2 separate regions of the Homo sapiens genome follow, and region 1 is linked to region 2. Evidence: fine-mapped expression QTL. Tissue or cell type: lung. Region 2 holds a variant in brackets; the other region holds the start of a gene. All regions are shown on one strand. Distances are between the middles of the regions.

What was found. PIP is the estimated chance that this variant, and not a neighbour inherited with it, causes the effect.
Region 1: PITPNA starts here. The variant in region 2 is fine-mapped to the expression of PITPNA in lung (TOPMed, PIP 0.96).

What each region holds. Positions count from the first base shown.
Region 1 is chr17:1,561,538-1,564,290 of GRCh38, reverse strand. It overlaps PITPNA (phosphatidylinositol transfer protein alpha), which reads left to right and starts at 1,499. Exons shown (of 12, transcript NM_006224.4): 1 at 1,499-1,750. The coding sequence starts at 1,731. RefSeq lists silencers at 1,327-1,606, 1,677-1,726, 2,207-2,336 and enhancers at 1,179-1,678, 2,447-2,546.
Region 2 is chr17:1,520,967-1,523,719 of GRCh38, reverse strand. PITPNA (phosphatidylinositol transfer protein alpha) reads left to right here. Exons shown (of 12, transcript NM_006224.4): 11 at 2,075-2,141. The coding sequence ends at 2,119. Among named protein-coding and RNA genes, the nearest start is that of PITPNA-AS1, 5.4 kb to the right of the region's middle. The variant A/G (reference allele first, on the strand shown) is at 1,657.

The DNA of each region.
Region 1 (2,753 bases), 41 kb before region 2:
GCTGCTTTTCTCTCCTCCTCTCAGCCAATGAGTCAACAAGTCTCACGGAGTTTACCTTCTGAGTTGCTCCTGAATCCATCCCTTCCTTTTCTTCCCTCCCACTGTCCTAGTCCACCTGCACCTGGACATCTGCAGCAGCCTCCTCGCCGGTCTCCCTGCCTACGCTCTGGCATTCCATCCCCTCTGTCCACCCAACCACTAGAGTGAGCCTTCGCCCAGGACACCCGCTCATGTCACTGCTCAGAGCCCTTACATGCCCTCCCACCGCCCTTAGGGTGGACTCCAAATACCTTATCATCGTTCACCAGGAACCCTCCCCTATTGAGCTGCTCAGCCCTGAAATGTTCTGTTCCACTCACTTGTCAGTTCTCCAAATGCACCATGCTCTCCCTCTTGCCTCCAGCCTTTGCATTCACTCTGCCTGCTATGCTCTTCTCCGAAGCCCTCTGCAGATCTGAGAATCTCTTCCTCCAGGAAGCCTTCCCTGACTACATCCCTGACGCTCAATTAGGTGCCCCTCCGTGTAATGCCGCTAAGCCTGTGTCTCATTTCTCACAGCCCTTTTCATTCTTTTTTTTTTTTTTTTTTTTGATGCAGAGTCTCGCTCTGTCGCCCCAGCTGGAGTGCAATGGTGCGATCTCGGCTCACTGCAACCTCCGCCTCCAGGGTTCAAGCGATTCTCCTGCCTCATCCTCCCGAGCAGCTGGGACTACCACCACCACGTCCACCACCACGCCCGGCTAATTTTTGTACTTTTAGTAGAGATGGGGTTTCGCCATCTGGTCTGGAACTCCTGACCTCAGGTGATGCGCCCGCCTGAGTGCTGCATTACAGGCATGATGTGCCTGGGATTACTGCCAGGAGCCACCGCGCCCGGCCTCACAGCCCTTTTCTTTTCTTTTTTTTTTTTTTGAGACGAAGTTTCACTCTTGTCCCCCAGGCTGGAGTGCAATGGCGCGATCGCGATCTCGGCTCACTGCAAACTCTGCCTCCCGGTACAAGCGATTCTCCCGCCTCAGCCTCCCGTGTAGCTGGGATTACAGGTGCGTGCCTCCACGCCCAGCTAATTTTTGTATTTTTAGTAGAGACGGGGTTTCATCATGTTGGCCAGGCTGGTCTCGAACTCCTGACCTCAGGTGATCCGCCCGCCTCGGCCTCCCAAGGTGCAAGGATTACAGGCGTGGGCCACCGCGCGCGGCTATTAATATTTTTTGAAACAACCTTTTCCTGGGTCTCAATTCCCTCAACCGGGGAGGCCCCCCAGCCAGCACCCGCGTGCATCCGTGGCGGTTCACACCGAGGACGGTGACGGACACCCTAGTCTGCTCCGCCTTCTGCCGGGTCTGGCCCCAGCCGCGGGGCCCCACCTCGGAACCGACAGCGCCGCCGCGGCCCACTTAAGGACGGGAGGGCGGGCCTGGGAAGGCTCGGCCCCGCGTGACGTCAGCGCGCACCGCGGCGTGTGACGCTCTGGTTGCCGCAGAGACGCCCCGCCCCCGCGCGGCGCTGCGGAACCGGAGCTCCGGGCGGCGTCGGCAGCGGCGCGAGAGGCGACGAGGCCCGGGCGGCAGGAGCCGGCGCGGCGACCGCGGCGAGGGCGGCGGGGACGGAGCAGAGCACGACGAAGACGCACAGGCAGCCGGGCCGGGCCGGGCCACGGGGAGAGCGGCCGGCGGGCAGCGGGCGGGAGGCCGGGCGGGCCGCGGGCAGCCACCGAGCCGCGAAGCGACATGGTGCTGCTCAAGGAGTAGTGAGTGTCCGGCGGCCGTGCGGAAGCGGGGAGGAGGGAGGGTGGGGACGGCCGCCGGGGCGACGGCGCGGCGAGGGACGCAGGGCCCGGATGGACGGAGGGGCAGCAGGGACGGAGGGTGCCTGAGGCGGGCCCAGCGGGGATGGAGGGGATCCGGGGCGGGCGGCACGTGAGGCGGGGCCCACGGGGCACGGAGGGGCGGCCGGGGCGTGGAGGGGCGGCCGGGGCGTGGAGGGGCAGCCGGGGCGTTCGGCATCTGAGCCGGGGCCCACGGGGCATGGACGGGCAGCCGGGGCATGGAGGGGCCCACGGGCACGGAGGGACAACCCGGGCGGACGGCTCCTCAGGCGCCCCGGGGGCCTCGGAGGCCCAAGTGGACCCGAGGAGAGGCCGGGGACAGCGAGGGCGAGGCCAGGCCCGAGACGGGGTCAGGGCAGGGAGAGCTGGCCCGGGACTGGGGGAGGCCGAGGGGACGCCGAGCGCTGGGAGTGCTGTGGGGTCGCTCTGCGCGGGCCGAGGGCGCGGGCTCAGCCGGGACTGCAGGCGGCGCTGAGAGGCCCCGCGGCGGCCGAGGAAGAGGCGCACCGGGGCAGGCAGGGCCTCCCGGCGGTGGGGAAAGGTGGAGGGCCGAACAGTTCACACGGAGAGCCGGGTGGATGGGTCAGAGGCTCCGCGATGGAGTTGGGATGGGGATGGGGAGGAGTGGCCGCCTTAGGCATCGGGTGAGGGGTGGTGGTAAGTGGACACAGGAGGAGGACTAGGAAGTCAGGGCCTGGCTGGGGAGACAGGTGAAGGGTCTGAGGACATGCAGAGGGGGCTGAGATGCGGGCCGGAGTAACCGTGGTGCCCAAGCAGCTGGTGCGGAAGAGGAGGCTTTTGGAACAAGCTTGGGATGACTGCTTGGGACGTGGGGAGACTTGGGCGAGGAGGCCAGAAAATGTTGGGTAGGGTCCGAAGTGGAGAAGGCCGGGAAGTTACCGGGGTCGAGGCTGGTCCGGAAAGA
Region 2 (2,753 bases):
GACCAACATGGTGAAACCCCGTCCCTATTAAAATACAAAAAAAAATTAGCCAGGCATGGTGGCGTGTGCCTATAGTCCCAGCTACTGGGGAGGCTGAGGCAGGGGAATTGCTTGAACCCGGGAGGCAGAGATTGCAGTGAGCCGAGATCACACCACTGCCATCCAGCCTGGCGACAGAGAGAGAGACTGTGTCTCAAAAAAAAAAAAAAAAAAAGCCAGGCGTGGTGGCACATGCCTGTAGTCCCAGCTTCTTGGGATGCTGAGGCAGGAGGATCACTTGAGCCAGGGAGTCGAGGCTGTAGTGAGCCATGATTGCGCCACTGCACTCCATCCTGGGCAACAGAGCCAGACCCTGTCTCAAACAAAACAATACAGTCTAGGGAGTTTCATTCTAGCAGCTATGCTCTTAGGTGCTCAAAATTTGTTGAACATTATAAAGAACAAAAGTTGAGCAGAAAACTAATGGATAGTGAAGAAATACTTATTGACATTCTTCACATAGAATGGAGTTTTCAAATCAGAACTGATTTTAGAGAGATGACGTCTACAGTATCCCCAGTGATGTCTGCCTGGAAGGTGCCAGTGACAGGGACCACTTGGTGCTTCCACAGAAGCCCCCATCCTGTTTTCCAGCAGCCTTGCACATCTGTGGATCTGAGACCTGCACCTGCACTTTCCACCTCTGCATCCTTGTGCCTAGTTCTGACACCACATTGTGCCCACCTTTAAACAGGTCAGGAAAGGGAAGTTCTGTTACTCTGCCGGGAACTCCTCTCCCGGAGAGCCACAGGATTTTCTCCCTCATTTCTCTCAGGTTTCATCTCAAACCTCACATACAAGCTTCTGTAACTACCTAAAATAGCACTTACCCACAGTCATTCTGTATCCGAGCAGCCCACAGTCCTAGCTGACATAGATGAATGTTTGTTCTCTGCCCATCCTGCCCCAGAATATAAGCTCCTTGAGGAGAGAACTGGTCTGTTTAGTTCACAGCTAAATATTCCCAGCCCTCTGGAAGTCCCTAGCACTAAAGAGATGCCTCACTGAGGCTGGGTGCGGTGGCTCACGCCTGTAATCCAAGCACTTCAGGAGGCCAAGGCAGGCAGATCATCTGAGGTCAGGAGTTCAAGATCAGCCTGGCCAAAATGGTGAAACCCCGTCTCCCCTAAAAATACAAAAATTAGCTGGGCGTGATGGTGCATACCTGCAATCCCAGCTACTTGGGAGGCTGAAGCAGGACAATCGCTTGAATCCAGGAGGCAGAGGTTGCAGTAAGCCAACTTTGCGCCACTGCACTCCAGCCTGGGCGACAGAGCAAGACTCCTCACACACACAAAAAAAGATGTTTCGGCCAGGCGCGGTGGCTCACGCCTGTAATCCCAGCACTTTGGGAGGCCGAGGCGGGTGGATCATGAGGTCAGGAGATCGAGACCATCCTGGCTAACAAGGTGAAACCCCGTCTCTACTAAAAATACAAAAAATTAGCCGGGCGCGGTGGCGGGCGCCTGTAGTCCCAGCTACTCGGGAGGCTGAGGCAGGAGAATGGCGTGAACCCGGGAAGCGGAGCTTGCAGTGAGCCGAGATTGCGCCACTGCAGTCCGCAGTCCGGCCTGGGCGGCAGAGCGAGACTCCGTCTCAAAAAAAAAAAGATGTTTC[A/G]TAAGTATTTGTTGAATGAATAAATGAATGAAACGGGCCAAGTGTGGTGGCTCACACCTATGCTGTAATCCCAGCACTTTGGGAGGTTGAGGCAGAGGATCGTGTGAGGCCAGGAGCCCAAGACCAGCCTGGTCAACATAGGAAGACCCCCCCACACACACCTCTTTACCAAAAAAAAAAAAAAAAAAAAGGTGCTTCAAACACCGTGACACGAGAGAACTAGAAATCATGGATGGTGAGACCAGTGACACAGATCTGGAAATGTATGGCTTCGAGTCCATATGCAGAATTCTTCCGTCCTTCCAGTGTCTTGCTTTTTACACAAAATATGCCCCACCCCACCTATGGGCAGGACTGAGAAGGCAGGAGTTCCATCAGCAGCAGGAGCCTTCCATTTGTCCTGCTTTTTTTGTTCCAGATGAGACAAAAGGACCCAGTGAAAGGAATGACAGCAGATGACTAAAGCCGCCTTTCCCCTCTGCACTGTACGTACCAAATTTCTCACTGTGCGTGTCACAGACGCTAAAATCAGTTTGGGTTTCAAGGCCTCAGCAGCTCACTATGGAGTCAGAAAACCTATTCCTCCTTCCCTCTAGTAATGATGGTTGCCACGCTCGATAGCTCTCCACTTCCACTAGGAGATTATGGCCCTTGGGACATTTCAGGGACATTTTCCAAAGAACCACCCAGATAGAGACAATGGACAGGGAGGGGGTGGTGGATATAGAAGGGGAGTTCATCTGCTGCGAATCACTCCTCCTGTCTGCCAGCTTGATCCATCTCAAGTTGCAGCTGTCATGTTGGGCACTCCCTGGCCTTCCCACGCCAGCGCCAGCTCCCAAAAGCTGCCATTACCTGCCCTTCCCCCTTGGAAAACTTGCTGGCCAGACAGCTTTTGTTAGCACCCACTGTTGTCTGGTGCTTCATTTCCTTCTTTATACCCCCGATCCCATACTAAGCTGCCCTCATCAGAGGTGGCATCTTTCAGATGCTGGGAGGGTGTTTCTGCCCAGGTCACAGGGCCAGATTGGGGGCCCCTTGTTTCATGTTGTCACTTTTCCCCAAGCCCCCTCCTTCCGTTAACTCTCGGTGCTGGT